Homo sapiens: one gene and its partners. The protein of the gene in region 2 purifies or fractionates together with the protein of the main gene of each other region. This does not show direct contact. Each region holds a gene or a part of one and is shown on either strand. Other genes may lie near its edges.

Region 1 (3,500 bases), on a different chromosome or scaffold from region 2:
ATTCACAAACCTGTTAGTGTCCCAAATAATGACATTTCCATCAAATCCTGATGTTACTAAGAGTCTTGTATTAGTATCATATTCGATGTTCTTCACCCAGCTAGTGTGACCATGTAAAGTGCATACTTTGGTGTTCAATTTTCTCAGATCCCATAGTGCTATTGTAGTGTCATCAGAGCAGGTAGCAAACAGCCGGTTATCAAGAAATCTATAAAAGCAGAAAAACAAAACCCTGGTTCATTTAATCTCTTTTTAAAGGAAAATTGATTTGAGAAACAGTCACTATATTACCTAGTCAAGAAAGAAAGAAAAAAAGGACTACACACTCACTATGTAAACCCAATGACTGATATACTATAAAAAGTATACTTTGCATAATCACAGAGCCAGGATACTATGATTTAATGACAGTCATATTGCAATTGGATCCATTTGCTTTAAATTACTGATTTTTATTTGAAATTGGAAATAGGGGTAAGTGTTTGGAAAACAGTGACAGAAGGGAAAAAAAGAACTTCAGAATCTCTATAGGAAACAAAAATGATGAGAGAGAATTTAATAGGCGATAGAGGAAGTTTTGAAGACTTGATTGCCGAGAGGGACACATTACACATAATCAAAATCATGAGAAATATTTGCTCTGCTACAAGGAACATCTTTTTCTATTTAGAACACAGTTACATACAAAAATTGCTATAAAATTGCCATTATTTTAAATCTTTTAACTGAAAGGTATTTCCCAAATAATCTCTTAGCAACATTTTATTAGGACCAATCAAGAAAATTACAAAATAGGCTTAAAATACTCTATAATTCAGACTTTTTATTATTTTACACTAACTTCTCAATCCTTAGTGAGAATATATTTAATACAAATACTTAAAAAATAAACTACTATTCACACTTGAATTTTTGCTTAATTTAACATTAGGATGCTTTCTGTAATACATGCTGTTATCCTAATCTCTTACAGAAGAAATGAATTCTGGTGCTTCTTCTAAGATAAATTTACATATAATTGTCAGAAATCAACCTCAATATCCACAAACACCATAACGACCTTCCTAAAATTGATCACGGTTTTCAAATACCAGGCGTTTACACAGGTTGTTTCTGCTAGGTGAAACAACCTTCCTCCTGCCCCTGGATCTGGCTAATTCTTGCTTTCTTTTTAATACCATCATGTGTCACTTAATGATGGAATACATTCTGAGAAATGTGTCCTTAGGTGATTTTGTTGTTGTGTGAACATCATAGAATGAACTTACACAAACCTAGATGGTACACACTGAGGTTATATGGTATATATGGTATATAGCCTATCACTCATAGGCTACAAATGTGCACAGCATGTTACCATACTAAATACTGTAGGCAACTGTAACACAATCGTAAGTATTTGTATATTGAAAGATAGAAAAAATACAGTAAAAGTACTGTATAAAAGATTTAAAATGTTACGCCTGTATAGGGCACTTACCATGAATGGAGCTTGCAGGCGTGGGAGTTGCTCTGGGTGAGTCAGTGAGTGAGGGGTGAGTCAGTGTGAAGGCCTAGGGCATTACTGTCCATTACTGTAGACATTATAAAGACTGTACACTTAGGCTACACTAAATTAATTTAAAAATTTTTCATCAGTAATAAATTAACCTTCGATTACTATAACTTTTTTTACTTCATGAATTTTTAATTTTTTAAACTTTTGACTCTTTTGTAATAACAGCTTAAACACAAACACATTGTACAACTGTACAAAAATATTTTCTTTCTTTATAGCCTTATTTTATTAACTTTTTTCTATTAAAATGTTTACTTTTTAAACTTTTTTGTTAAAAACAAAGACACACATTAGCCTAGTTCTACACAGGGTAAAAATCATCAATATCACTGTCTTCCATCTCCACATCTTGCCCCACTGGAAGGCCTCCAGGGGCAATAACAGGAACAGAGCTGTCATCTCCTGATAACAATGGCTTCTCCTGGAATACCTCCTGAAGAACCTCCCTGAGGCTGTTTTACAGTTTAATTTTTTTTTAAGTAGGAGTACATTCTAAAATAACAATAATAAGTATAACATAGTAAGTATTAGGCAATAGGAATTTTTCAGCTCCATTATAATCTTCTGGAACCACTGTTGTATATGGTGTCACTCACTGAAATGTTGTTATGTGGCATATAACTGTATTCAGCTGTTATGCCCTCCAGGAAGCCTTCCTTGTTTAACCAGCCTGGTAGACCTACCAATTCTCTGAGCTCCCAAAGCATTCTGGGAGCTTCTATCATAATACTTAATATTATACTGTAAGGAACAACTTTACTGTAAACTCCCTGAAGACAGAAGGAACCTGTCTGCCTAGGGTCATGGTTAGATCTGCAGTATACAATACACATGGTGCCAGACACATATGCACTCAACAAATACTTACAAAATAAATGAAAGAGAAGTTCACTGCCTAGCAGAAAAGACACTGTAAGTACATAATTACACGAAATAATTGTGTGGAATAAGCAAAGAGGGTGGCTGGGAAAGACTTCATGATGTTATCATTTGAACTGAATAAAAGATGAGCAGGAACTCCCTAAGTGGTCAGGGTTACTAAGCAAAGATACACAGGCATGTGAGCGGATGGTGCCCTCTGAGAAGCAGCAGTTAGGAGTGCTGTGTGTGGGAAAGTAGAGATGACTAGGGAATACATTATGGATTTATTCTATGGTGATTACCAGTAACTATTTTTTAATTATAAAAATACATTTCCTGGCCAAGCGTGGTAGCTCATACCTATAATCCCAACATTTTGGAAGGCCAAGATGGATGGATCACTTGAGCTCAGGAGTTTGAGACCAGCCTGGGCAACATGACGAAACCCCATCTCTTATTTTAAAAATAACGATAACAAAAAACATTTCTACTGAAAATATTTTTAATGAAAAAAAATCGGCTGGGCGCAGTGGCTCACGCCTGTAATCCCAGCACTTTGAGAGGCTGAGGCGGGTGGATCACAAGGTCAGGAGTTCAAGACCAGCCTGGCCGAGATGGTGAAACCCTGTCTCTACTAAAAATACAAAAAAAATTAGCTGGGCATGGTGGCGGGCGCCTGTAATCCCAGCTACTCGGAGGCTGAGGCAGAGGCAGAGAATTGCTTGAACCCGGGAGGCGGATGTTGCAGTGAGCTGAGATCGTGCCACTGCACTCCAGCTGGGGCACAGAGCAAGATTCCGTCTCAAAAAAAAGAAAAAGAAAAAAAAAATCCATCACCAAAAATAACCACTTTATTGATGTTTAGCTTAATTTCTGTTTTAAACCTAATATTATCTCAAAAACATATTGCCATTATTAAAGGTTTATTAACAAAATCATGTTTAATGGCTGAATAGTGTTCACTGTATGAAGAACTGAAACCTTTTTTCTTTTTAATTTTTTTTTTTTTGGAGACAGAGTCACGCTTTATCCCCCAGGTGCTCACTGCAACCTCTACCTCCTACATTCAAGTGATTCTCAT
Region 2 (3,500 bases):
GTGAAATGCTAAGTGTCGAATACAGATGGACATAAAGACAGGAACAACAGACACTGGGGCCTACTAGAAGGGGGAGGCAGAGAGAGAGGGCAAGGGCTGAAAAACTACCTATTGGGTGCTATGCTCACCACCTGGGTGACAAGACCATTTGTACCTCAAACCTTAGCATCAAGCAACATACCCATGTAACAAACCCTACACATGTACCCCCGGATCTAAAAAAAAAAGTTGAAATTATAAATAAAATAATAATAGAAATAAATGGAGTCTGCAGCACTGGTGGAGGGCAGGTGGTGGCTGCTGCTCAGGTGCTCACACAGGTGGGTCTGCTGCTTACTTGTGCCTGTGCTTCAATGACTGGCACAGCCTCGGCAGCCTCTAGTGCAAGGCTCTTCCTCACACGGCAGGTCCTTTCTCCTGCTTTCTTCTTGTCCACAGACTTCTGGAAATGTTGCCTACATTGTTTTTTTTATCCTGGGATGATCTCCCTGGCTTCTGGCCATTTGCTTGGACTCTGGGCTTCATGCATTGTGGACTCTCCTGTTCTAGGCCTGGCATCAGGCCTCCCACGCTTTCTCACCCTGCGTGACACCATGCAGGTTTGCCTTGGGTGGCTTACCTGGACTTGCTTCTGAGCCTCTGTGCTCCAATCCTTGGTACCTTCCCGAGTTGTCTGAATTGTTTTCAACTTCTCCACTCCGCTGTCTCCTGAGCTCTGGTGGAAGGTTCACTGGGCTCCTGAGCTTGTTCTCACAGAAGTATGCACATTGCTTAGGGTGCTGTCCACAGATGGAGGCACAGCTGATGCAGTCCCTCAGGAGATGGTCATAGAACTTGCCTTGCTCCTTGCGGCAGCTGAGTGACCCTGGGAGAGAGAAATTCATGATACTGCTGGGTGACACAGACTAGCAGGAACTCTGGGTTTGACCACAAAGGACATCAAAGTTAAAAAAAAAAATACAGTAAAATTCCAGAAGGCAATTCCAGAGTAAGCCAAGTACTTTTACAATATACACATTGAAGACTATGCATTGTCCTCTAAGTACTATTTTAGCTGCATTGCATTTTGATGTGTAGTATTTTTCCTCTACCTAGATCAAAATGCACTTATTTTTCATTATTATCTTTTCTTTGACCTATGGGTTATTTACAAGTGCATTTCTTAGTTTCCAAACGTATGAAGATTTTCAGTTATCATTTAAAATTTAGATCTGGATTACATTGTTACATAAGACTTTTACTTGCATTTTTCAAGCCTCATCAAGGAGAAATATATTTCAAATCAGCATAAGGAAAGAAGGGGAAAAGCCAGAATCCTCTTTGACAAGCTGGGGGAGGGGGCTGGAAGGAAGGTGGAAAAGTTCACATGAATAGTGTTTCTTCTGTCTTAATACTAGATGAGAATTACAGCAGCTTACACAAGTATCAGTGCCAAGGCACAGAAGCCAAGGAAACTAAAGCCAAATCACACTTGCCTTAAGAGAGCACAGTGGACCCAACTTTGAATGCATAAAGAAACCTATTTGGAACAATCAATTATCTTATCTAAAGTCTCAGAATATTTCTAATTTTTTTTTTTTTTTTGAGAAGGAGTTTCGCTCCTGTCACCCAGGCTGGAGTGCAATGGCACGATCTCGGCTCACTGCAACCTCTGCCTCCCAGGTTCAAGCAATTCTCCTGCCTCAGCCTCCCGAGTAGCTGGGATTACAGGCGACCACCACAACACCCGGCTAATTTTTGTATTTTTAGTAGAGATGGACTTTCGCCGTGTTGGCCAGGCTGGTCGTGAACTCCTGACCTCAGGTGATCTGCCTGCCTCGGCCTCCCAAAGTGCTGGGATTACAGGTGGCATGAACCACCGCATCTGGTCTAGCCTCCGAATATTTCTACATGGAAGTTTTTACGTGAAAAAGGCAAGTTTCCTTTGTATTTAGAGTAAGGTATGGCTTTTGAGATGTCCTGACTTCGTAAATATGAATAAATAAATAAATAAATATGTATAAATAAAATATATGTGGCTCACACATATATTTTAAGGACACATTTTGGAGACAGTGCAGGATAGTGGATAAGAACCCAAATTTCAGAACCAAATTTCAGTTGGGGCCATCCCTGGCTGTACCACTTGCAGGCAGTGTGGTCTTAGCCTCTCCGTGCCTCAGTTTCCTCATTTCCAACATAGGGAAAATAACAGTACTGACTTCTTCGTAGGGTTGTTGGCAGAGTTGTAGGGCCCAGCACAGTGCCTGGCACATACTAAATGCTCACGTAATGGAAAGCTTAAGTAGAATATTCATTTGAGCCTCTTCACAAAGCAAACAGATCCGTTCTTGTGTCTTTGACAGAGTAAAGGAAGGAACTAAAAGATCACGGAATTGGGACCTTAGGGAAAACTCAGATGGCCCACATAGGGCCAGTGACCTCCCCTGCTCTGGCCCTGCCCTATCCCCAGGGCGCCCCTGAACCGCACAGAAACTGACACCTCCACTCTGCATCACACAGGGTTAGCCCAGCATTGGTGTCCTTGGGGCTTTCTGTGACCTCCTCCCCTGTTGCAGGTGGTGCTGTTGCAGGTGGTGCCTGAGTGCCCCAGCCCACTGACCCTCCCTGCCTGACCTCACACCCCTCCCTGCCTGACCTCACACCCCTCCCCTCCCCCGCCTGGGACTCAGTCCTCCCCACTGTGTTTCCCTCCTCTGAGCCTCTGCTCATAGTGCCCTTTCTTCCAGGTGCCCATCTGATTTCCGCATTCTGTGACCTCTTAACAATCTGCCTCTGATGGTGCTTCCTCTAGGGACACCTCCCTGCTCCCCAGCCCTTTAGCTGAAGGGGGTCTCTCCCAACTGTGGCTTTCTACCTTGACACATAGTCATTTCTCCCATTAGATGACACTGTCTTTGAAGGGCCACGGCAGATTCCTATTTCCATGGGGCTGGAGCACTCCATCTATGTTTGTGGGATGAACCAATGAATGTTCTAATTCATTAATGGGTAGTGGTTCAGGTCATGATTTAGGAGTCGGAGTCCTGGGTTCAAACCAGGATGTCGCTGTGACATCTCCACTTTTAAACTGGGTGATCTTGGGTGAGTCACTCAGCCTCTCTGAGTTCCCCGCAATAAGTATTCATGAAGGACTTACTATGTGTCAGGCACTGTGCTAGGCTCAAGTCAGACATGGTTCCCCTGCCAGGGAGCTCCCAGTCTAGTGGTTGAGTCAGACATAAAACACATACACATGAAAGAACAAAACAGCAAATTGTGGTAAGTTCTATCAAGGAAAAGAACAGGTTATGAAAAAGAACAGCAAGCAACGAATAATTTTCAAGACAATCAGGGAAAACTGGATATTGCCTGAGTATTAGATGATGTTAATAAATTATTGCTGGCAGTGATAGGATATTTGGATTATGTTTCACAGGTTTTCGTGGTCCAGTATCTGCAGGTAAAATTATATGAGATCTTGGCTGTGCTTTAAAATACACAAGGCAGGCTGGGTGCAG
Region 3 (3,500 bases), on a different chromosome or scaffold from region 2:
GCCTGACCAACATGGTGAAACACCATCTCTACTAAAATACAAAAATTAGACGGGCATGGTGGCAGGCACCGGTAATCTCAGCTACCCGGGAGGCTGAGGCAGGAGAATCGCTTGAACCCAGGAGGCGGAGGTTGCAGTGAGCCGAGATTGTGCCACTGCACTCCAGCATGGGTGACAGAGTGAGACTCCCTCTCCAAAAAAAAAAAAAAAATTAGTATTTTCCTAAAGAACTTCTGAAAATAAAATTAAGAATAACACCTAGGGCTGGGCTCGGTGGCTCACACCTATAATCTCAGCACTTTGGGAGAGCAAGGTGGGTAGACCACCTGAGGTCAGGAGTTTGAGACTAGCCTTGCTAACACAGCGAAACTCCATCTCTACTAAAAATACAAAAATTAGCCAGGTGTGGTGGCACATGCCTGTAATCCCAGGAGGTGGAGGCTGCAGTAAGCCGAGATCCCTATCTTTTTTTTTTTTTTTTTTTTTTTTTTTAAAAAAGGCCAGGTGCCGTGGCTCACACCTATAATCCCAGCACTTTGGGAGGCGGGCGGATCATGAGGTCAGGAGATCAAGACCTTCCTGGCTAACATAGTGAAACCCCGTCTCTACTAGAAATACAAAAAATCAGCCGGGCCTGGTGGCGGGCGCCTGTAGTCCCAGCTACTTGGGAGGTTGAGGCAGGAGAATCGCTTGAACCTGGGAGGCAGAGGTTGCAGTGAGCCGGGATCACACCACTGCACTCCAGCCTAGGTGACAGAGCGAGCCTCCGTCTCAAAAAAAAAAAAAAAAAAAAAAGAAAGAAAATGAGCTCCAGTTTTTCTGTCATTTCCTAGTTTTTTATTTTTTTGCTTATAAAATAGGATTTCATTTTGCTGACCTAGACACCCTAGTTCCTTACTGTAAGATTAATCAAAAACACTCATATTGGAAAATAGAAATGTTATAGGTAGGGGTATCCCTTACCACTTGCTGATACTTGTTTACATTTTCTTGAAGTGTGTTAAGCAGAAAACTGAAGATCCTTTCCATGTTCTGGGTTAATGTTTGCTGGATGTCCCTTCTTCTTTGAGGGGGAAGTGTCTGAAAAGTCACTACATCCTCTGCCAGTCGCAAAAGGATAAACATCACCAATTCTGTCTGTGTTTCCTACACCAATAGAAATAAGCTAGTTAAAAACTAAAATATCTTTTCATTTTATGTATATCCAAAGGCTATTTTCTGTTGCCAAAAAAAAAAACCCACAAACAAAATCAAACAACAAACCCTGAAGTTTGTTCCAAGGAAAAGTATACCAAACTGATATAGCTGTGTTTCATACCCCTTGTTTGGAAAGAGTGTCCAATTCTATTAGCATGTCAGGCCAATGCTGTGGCCACTCTCGCTTGATCATTTCCACTACAATTCGAGACAGAGCATCTTTAATATGGTTCTCCTCTTCCAAAATGTTCAATGTTCCCTGAAAAAGAACAAGAGATATTAAGAGATATGCAAGACTGGATTCCAGACTTCCAGAAAAAAGCTGGGCTGTAGAGTTGTAAAAAATTTATCAGCAGGCCTACTTTTAAACCAAACAGAACAAATGAACCTGTTCTTCAGCCTGAGTCACTTGTCCTGCATTCTTGCTAATCACTCTTCCGCTTAAAGCTTAAGTGAGGGTTGCATCACCTAAAAGGCTGTCATATCGAGAGCTAGGATGACATCATTATTCTTTACAAAATGAAAAGATTCTCATATTGATTGTTTCAGTTTGCAGAAGGCCAGGGAGGAAGAGTATAGAAATAAGGAGTATAGTGAGTAGCTGGTAAAATGGAAGGGTATGAAGGGGCAAATGAATATTTTACCAATAGTTCTAACACTAGAAGACGCAGAAGTATTAGAAGATCCCATCTCTCATGTCTGTTATTTAAAAAAAACCAAGAAAGAAAAAAGGCTACAATTTTGAACATGTTTAAAGTCATATTCTGTTTTGTGTTTAAAGAGACAGTCATCCAGTCATCACACCTGTAATCTCAGCATTTTGGAAAGCCAAGGTGGGAGGATTGCTTGAGGCCAGGGGTTTGAGACCAGACTAGCCTGGGAAACACAGTGAGACCCTGTCTCTCTAAAAACCAAAAACAAAATTAGCTGGGCATGGTACCACATGCCTATAATCCCAGCTACTTGGGAGGCTAAGGCGAGAAGATCACTTGAGCCCAGGAGTTCGAGGCTGCAGTGAGCTATGATCATGCTAATGCAATCCAGCCGGAGCAACAGAGACTCTGTCTCAAAAAAAAAAAAAAGTCATATTCTAATACTTGAAACAAATTCATTCTGCATACTTAAAATTCTGCATGTTTTTCATCATTAGTATCACATAGTAGTTGTTTGGAATAAAAGAAAATAGTGTTTCAATCTAATTTAGATCTAAGAATCTTATTGATTTGTTGAAAATATTTAATCCCCTCTGCCCTGTCTTTATAATTTAAAAAATAGAAGTCAATACATAAGCATGATTAATTAAACCTAGTAAGAGACATATGCTGAATTATGCTTTCTGCTTTTGTTTTGTTTTGTTTTTGAGATAGGGTCTTGCTCTGTTGCACAGGCTGGAGTGCCATGGCACCATCACAGCTCACTGCAGCCTGGACCTCCTGGGCTCAGAAAATCCTCCCACCTCAGCCTCCTGAGTAGCTGGGCCACAGGCATGCGCCACCACGCTCAGCTAATTTTTGCATTTTTGGTAGAGATGGGGTCTCACTGCATTGCCCAAGCTGCTCTCGAATTCTTAGATGCAGGTGATCCTCTTACCTTGGCTTCCCAAAGCGCTAGAATTACAGGTGTGAGTCACTGTGCCTGGCCTAAATTATGATTTCTTGTGCTGTCTGACCTATTTAGAAGCAGTGAATTTTTACACAAACTCCCTATTGAAGAAGTCACGCTTTGCCTAAACTACCTTGGAAACATGTCTCCCAACCACCCATTCCTTACATTTGCAATCAGCTCCATGACACTGTTCTTCAGATACACCTTCTCCAATCGAGACATGCCGTTCCACCGAAACCTGACCACCAAAATGCATAAAGTCAATAGAACCACTTTAGAAGTCTTGTCTTTACAAGAGAATAGCATGGATTTCTACATTTGATTACACTGGAGATTTCATTAAGAAATTATACTTTTGATTTTGTACCTGTCAATGAATGGGCAAAAATGATCTACATTTAACCAAAATACTAACACAAAAATTCTTGGGAAAAGGTTTTATATATGCAGTGGTCCATTAACTGGAATCCGCACAAGATTTGTACCACACGTCAGCTTTGCCTCATGATTTTATTGATGGGCCAAAAGTGAATATACATCTAGGTCAACTGCAACAATGTACTTGCTTTTCAGAAAATGCAGTTTTGACATCAGTCATTTTCTGTGCTGGCTTACAAAACAATTCTGGAAAAACTATGGCTAAGTCTTAAAGGCTACCTCTTCTGATAGGTGTTGAGGGTAGGACAATCAAGTTAGGA
Region 4 (3,500 bases), on a different chromosome or scaffold from region 2:
CTGCCTGGGGAGGACACAGCCGACCTCCAACACAGACAGCAGCTGGCGATTCCACACCGTGGAGCACAAAAGCCAGTCGAGGCTGCTAGAGATGCTCTGAGACATTTTATTTAAACTTTTTTTTTTAAAAAAAAGACAGCAATAATTAATGCCAAGAACAGAAAAGAATGTTGACGTGTTGCCCGGCCCGCCAAGCGGGCCCCTGCCCAGGCCCCCAAGCTCTGCCACCACTGGGGTGCCGTCCCCTCCCGCAGCGGGGCACAGTCAGCTTTGAAGGTGACAGCGGGCCAAGGCCAGGACTCTGGGTGGAGGAGGCCCCTTCTCTGCCGGCCCCGCCTCTGCTGGGAGCAGCCACAGCCTGTGGCTGGGGTGCTGGGATTTCTTCCTGGTCATCAAAGAGAAACGTACAAACCTCAAGGACCCAGACACACAGTGGGTGGCCAGGGCAGACCCCACAGCAGACCCCATGGCTCGCCTGAGCTCTGGCAGCTGCCCCACTGCTCCTTCCATCCTTGCCCCAATCCCCCAATGCTTGTTTTGATTGTTTTCTTAAAAAATATAATTTTGTAAATGTTCCATAAAAATACTATTATTCCTAGTCAAACACAGATATTGCAATATGAAGAGTAACTGCTCTGTCTTTGCTCTATAAAACGTGAAAAGATTATCACACTGGATAATATAGAAAAGATGCCAGGGTTCCTAAGTATCACAAAAGCCAGTACCAAATGCGCAAGGTGGAAGTGGGGCCGGGGCAGGGTCGGGCTGGGCAGGGCAGCAGCCTGGGTTCCTCCCGGCTCGACTGCGGAGCGCGACTCGCGCGTCGGTCCCTTCTTCCCACGAGGGGGTATCATGGCTTTGAAGAGACGGCGGCAGCTCCAGGTCCCAGCGTCCAGCCCTGCCCAAGTAGGCCGCCTGCTCGGCCAGAAGCACCGAAGAACCCAGCGACGCCGGTGGGACCAGGCGGCCCTGCTCTGGCGGCCTCGGCGGCTGGCCCGTATTCAGGCCCGGAGGCTCGGCCCCGGCTCCCCTTCTGCGCGGGTGCAGGCTCCTCCTGTGAGCTCAGTCCGGTGAGGTGCGCTCCCGAGCAGGTGCCAGGTGCGACACAGGAGCGGGGACATCCCTGACCCCAGACGCAGGCGGGTGGCTGCGCTTCCCTTCAGTTCTCAGAGAGAGACAGGGCCAGAGCAGCCTGGAAGGCGGCCTCCTCGTCAATACTGTAGTCCTGGAGACAGGAAGGAGAGATGCACCGGGCTCGAGGGAGACAGGAAGGAGAGGTCCCCTCTGCCCATCACCCACACAGGCGTGTCCACCCTTCCTGCCTCCCTCCAGCAGGACACAGGAAGGACCCAGCTCCACTGTCCCCACAGGCTCGGGGCCTGCACGGTCCTCTGGGGGGTGAGAAGGTGAAGGTGTGTCCATCACCCGCTGGGTACGGGGGCACTCGGAATGGATGGCTGCTGGTTCAGGTCGGACTCTAAGCCCGGGGTTTCCGAGGTGAGCAGGCCGGCCAGGGCTCCCTGACCTCTAACAATTTCCATCCTGAGGCAGGCGGAGCGTGGGTCCCGGACGACTGGCAGAGGGAGTGACAGCCATCGCCAGGACTGTTAGCCAGGGCCAGGAATGAACAGGGCGGCGCAGGGAGGGGCCGCACCAGGAGTGAGGAGTTTGTGCGAGGGTCTGCAGGCCCGGGGGCCAGGTGTGTGCCTGACCCGCGGCGGGTGGGAAAAGGAGACAGGGCTGGAGTGTTCGATGTTGATGAAAGTCCTTCCCGCGCTCTCTAGAAAGCTTCCAGAAGGAAGCCTGGCTCACCCTCGAGGGGTTCTGTGGGGTGGGCAGGCAGGGACCTGCCCTGTGCGGTCCATGTCCCCGAGAGGCCTGGGCACCCTCTAGTGGCCACTCAAACTCAGCTGCCATCACTCCCCACCTGCAGGCAGCCCCCACAGAACCTGGGGGAATGTGGCCACCTGAAACGAGGCTTCTGTTTCTGGCTTCCTCTGAACCCTGCGGACCCTGAGGCTGGCGAGGGGCCCGAGCAGGAGGAGGGTGGATGAGGAGGGCGTGGGGGAGGACGGTGCTGGCGGGATGCCTACCACAAAGGTGTCGTAGGAGAACTTGTGTCGGTGAAGCAGGTGCTGCAGGAAGTTGGCGCTCTTGTAGCTGGGGTCCCCCCAGGGCATTGCCGAGCAGATGGGGCACACCTGGAACAGGCACTGGGGTCAAGCCGAGCCGGACCGCGGAGAGGCGGGGTAGCCGCAGTAGGACTGGGGGCCCTCCACTGAGCCCCGTCAGTGCTGCCTCAGCCTGGGAAGGCACCCCAGACCTGGAGGCGCGTGTCCCGGTGACAAGCGAGTTATTCAGTGCGCGTCACCCTGAAGGACTCATGGACACTCCCCGGTTTCCGCCAGGTGCTGCTCGGGCAGCCAAGTTCCCACCCTGGGTCCCAGGAGGCCTTTGTGGCCTGGGCACCCCCGGACTCGCCGCGAGCAGGCTCCTGGGCCTTGTACTGTCCCCCACAGGCCTCCCCTGGCGCAGGCGTCGCTTGGGGCAGGCACTGCTCACCACGCGGTTGGGGTCGCTGCGGTGGCTTTCCACACAGTGCTTCACCAGCTCCTGCTGGTCCAGGTTGCGGGCACCACAGTACGGGCAGGCGAAGGTGGACCTGTTGGGGATGTTGCTGGCGGGGCGGGGGTAGAGTGAGTGGCACGGCTAGGTGTCTAGGGGCTCTGCCTCCCCGCTTCTCTCAAACACAGGCGTGGCCCCAGGCCTGCCCTCTGTAGGCTGCAAGAGCGTGGCAGTGGCTGGGTGCCCCCCGTGCCTCTGCACGCCATGGCCTCCTGAGGACACACCCAGGACCCTCGTCCACCCCACACAACTAGGCCAGCCAAACGGCAGAGACTCTGCTGGCGCTGCCCTGGCAGGAGCCGTCTCTCGGCCCATCCACCTGCTGGGAGGCGATGTGTGGGCCCGGCCTGCGCCCTCCTCCTGCTCCCCACAGCTGAGCTGTCCCTACCCCAGGGGGCCTGGTGGGTATGCCAGGGAGGGCAGCACAGGAGCCTTCCTGCAGGGTGGCAAGGAAGGTCCACTTCCCCAGAGTGGACCCGGCCCCGGGTGACTCCCCCAGCCTCTCTGGGATGGGGCACTGCGCTTGCTCCCAGAACGAGGAAACCGCCGAGGACAGTTCCTCTCCCTTGCCCGGCAGCGTGCCTACCTGGGGATAGGCTGTGATGTGGGCACCACGGGGACGAACTTGGGGCAGTTGGCCATCTGCTCCTGGACCTTCAGGCAGGACGAAATGTGCACTCTCATCTTTGCCAGGGTCACCTAGGAGACAGGGCAGGGAGGGCAAGGCGGTCCTGAGAATCTGGAAGGGCCGTCCTGGGGAGGCCGAGACCTCAGGTGTCCAGGACCAGAGAACTGTAAGCAAGCGTCTGTGTTGCCAGCAGCAGGGGGACCCGGTCCCTTCTGCTGCTAAAACAATCTCAGGCACTGAGCAGCCA

The links.
Region 1: the proteins of TNFRSF13B (region 2) and DCAF10 purify together in Homo sapiens (co-immunoprecipitation; 2 studies listed by BioGRID and IntAct, with this or other methods). This does not show direct contact.
Region 3: the proteins of TNFRSF13B (region 2) and XPO5 purify together in Homo sapiens (co-immunoprecipitation; 2 studies listed by BioGRID and IntAct, with this or other methods). This does not show direct contact.
Region 4: the proteins of TNFRSF13B (region 2) and RNF166 purify together in Homo sapiens (affinity purification with mass spectrometry; 2 studies listed by BioGRID and IntAct, with this or other methods). This does not show direct contact.

Annotation. Positions count from the first base shown.
Region 1 is NC_000009.12:37,838,797-37,842,296, reverse strand, and holds part of DCAF10 (DDB1- and CUL4-associated factor 10), read right to left. Parts: intron 209-3,500; coding exon 11-208; intron 1-10. UniProt on the Homo sapiens protein: May function as a substrate receptor for CUL4-DDB1 E3 ubiquitin-protein ligase complex.
Region 2 is NC_000017.11:16,948,119-16,951,618, forward strand, and holds part of TNFRSF13B (tumor necrosis factor receptor superfamily member 13B), read right to left. Parts: intron 866-3,500; coding exon 620-865; intron 1-619. UniProt on the Homo sapiens protein: Receptor for TNFSF13/APRIL and TNFSF13B/TALL1/BAFF/BLYS that binds both ligands with similar high affinity. Mediates calcineurin-dependent activation of NF-AT, as well as activation of NF-kappa-B and AP-1.
Region 3 is NC_000006.12:43,569,539-43,573,038, forward strand, and holds part of XPO5 (exportin-5), read right to left. Parts: intron 3,041-3,500; coding exon 2,968-3,040; intron 1,457-2,967; coding exon 1,319-1,456; intron 1,147-1,318; coding exon 964-1,146; intron 1-963. UniProt on the Homo sapiens protein: Mediates the nuclear export of proteins bearing a double-stranded RNA binding domain (dsRBD) and double-stranded RNAs (cargos). XPO5 in the nucleus binds cooperatively to the RNA and to the GTPase Ran in its active GTP-bound form.
Region 4 is NC_000016.10:88,696,409-88,699,908, forward strand, and holds the end of RNF166 (E3 ubiquitin-protein ligase RNF166), read right to left. Parts: exon of another isoform or gene 3,326-3,500; intron 3,325-3,325; coding exon 3,212-3,324; intron 2,678-3,211; coding exon 2,563-2,677; intron 2,202-2,562; coding exon 2,094-2,201; intron 1,708-2,093; coding exon of another isoform or gene 1,526-1,707; intron 1,226-1,525; coding exon 1,160-1,225; 3' UTR 93-1,159; downstream 1-92. UniProt on the Homo sapiens protein: E3 ubiquitin-protein ligase that promotes the ubiquitination of different substrates. In turn, participates in different biological processes including interferon production or autophagy.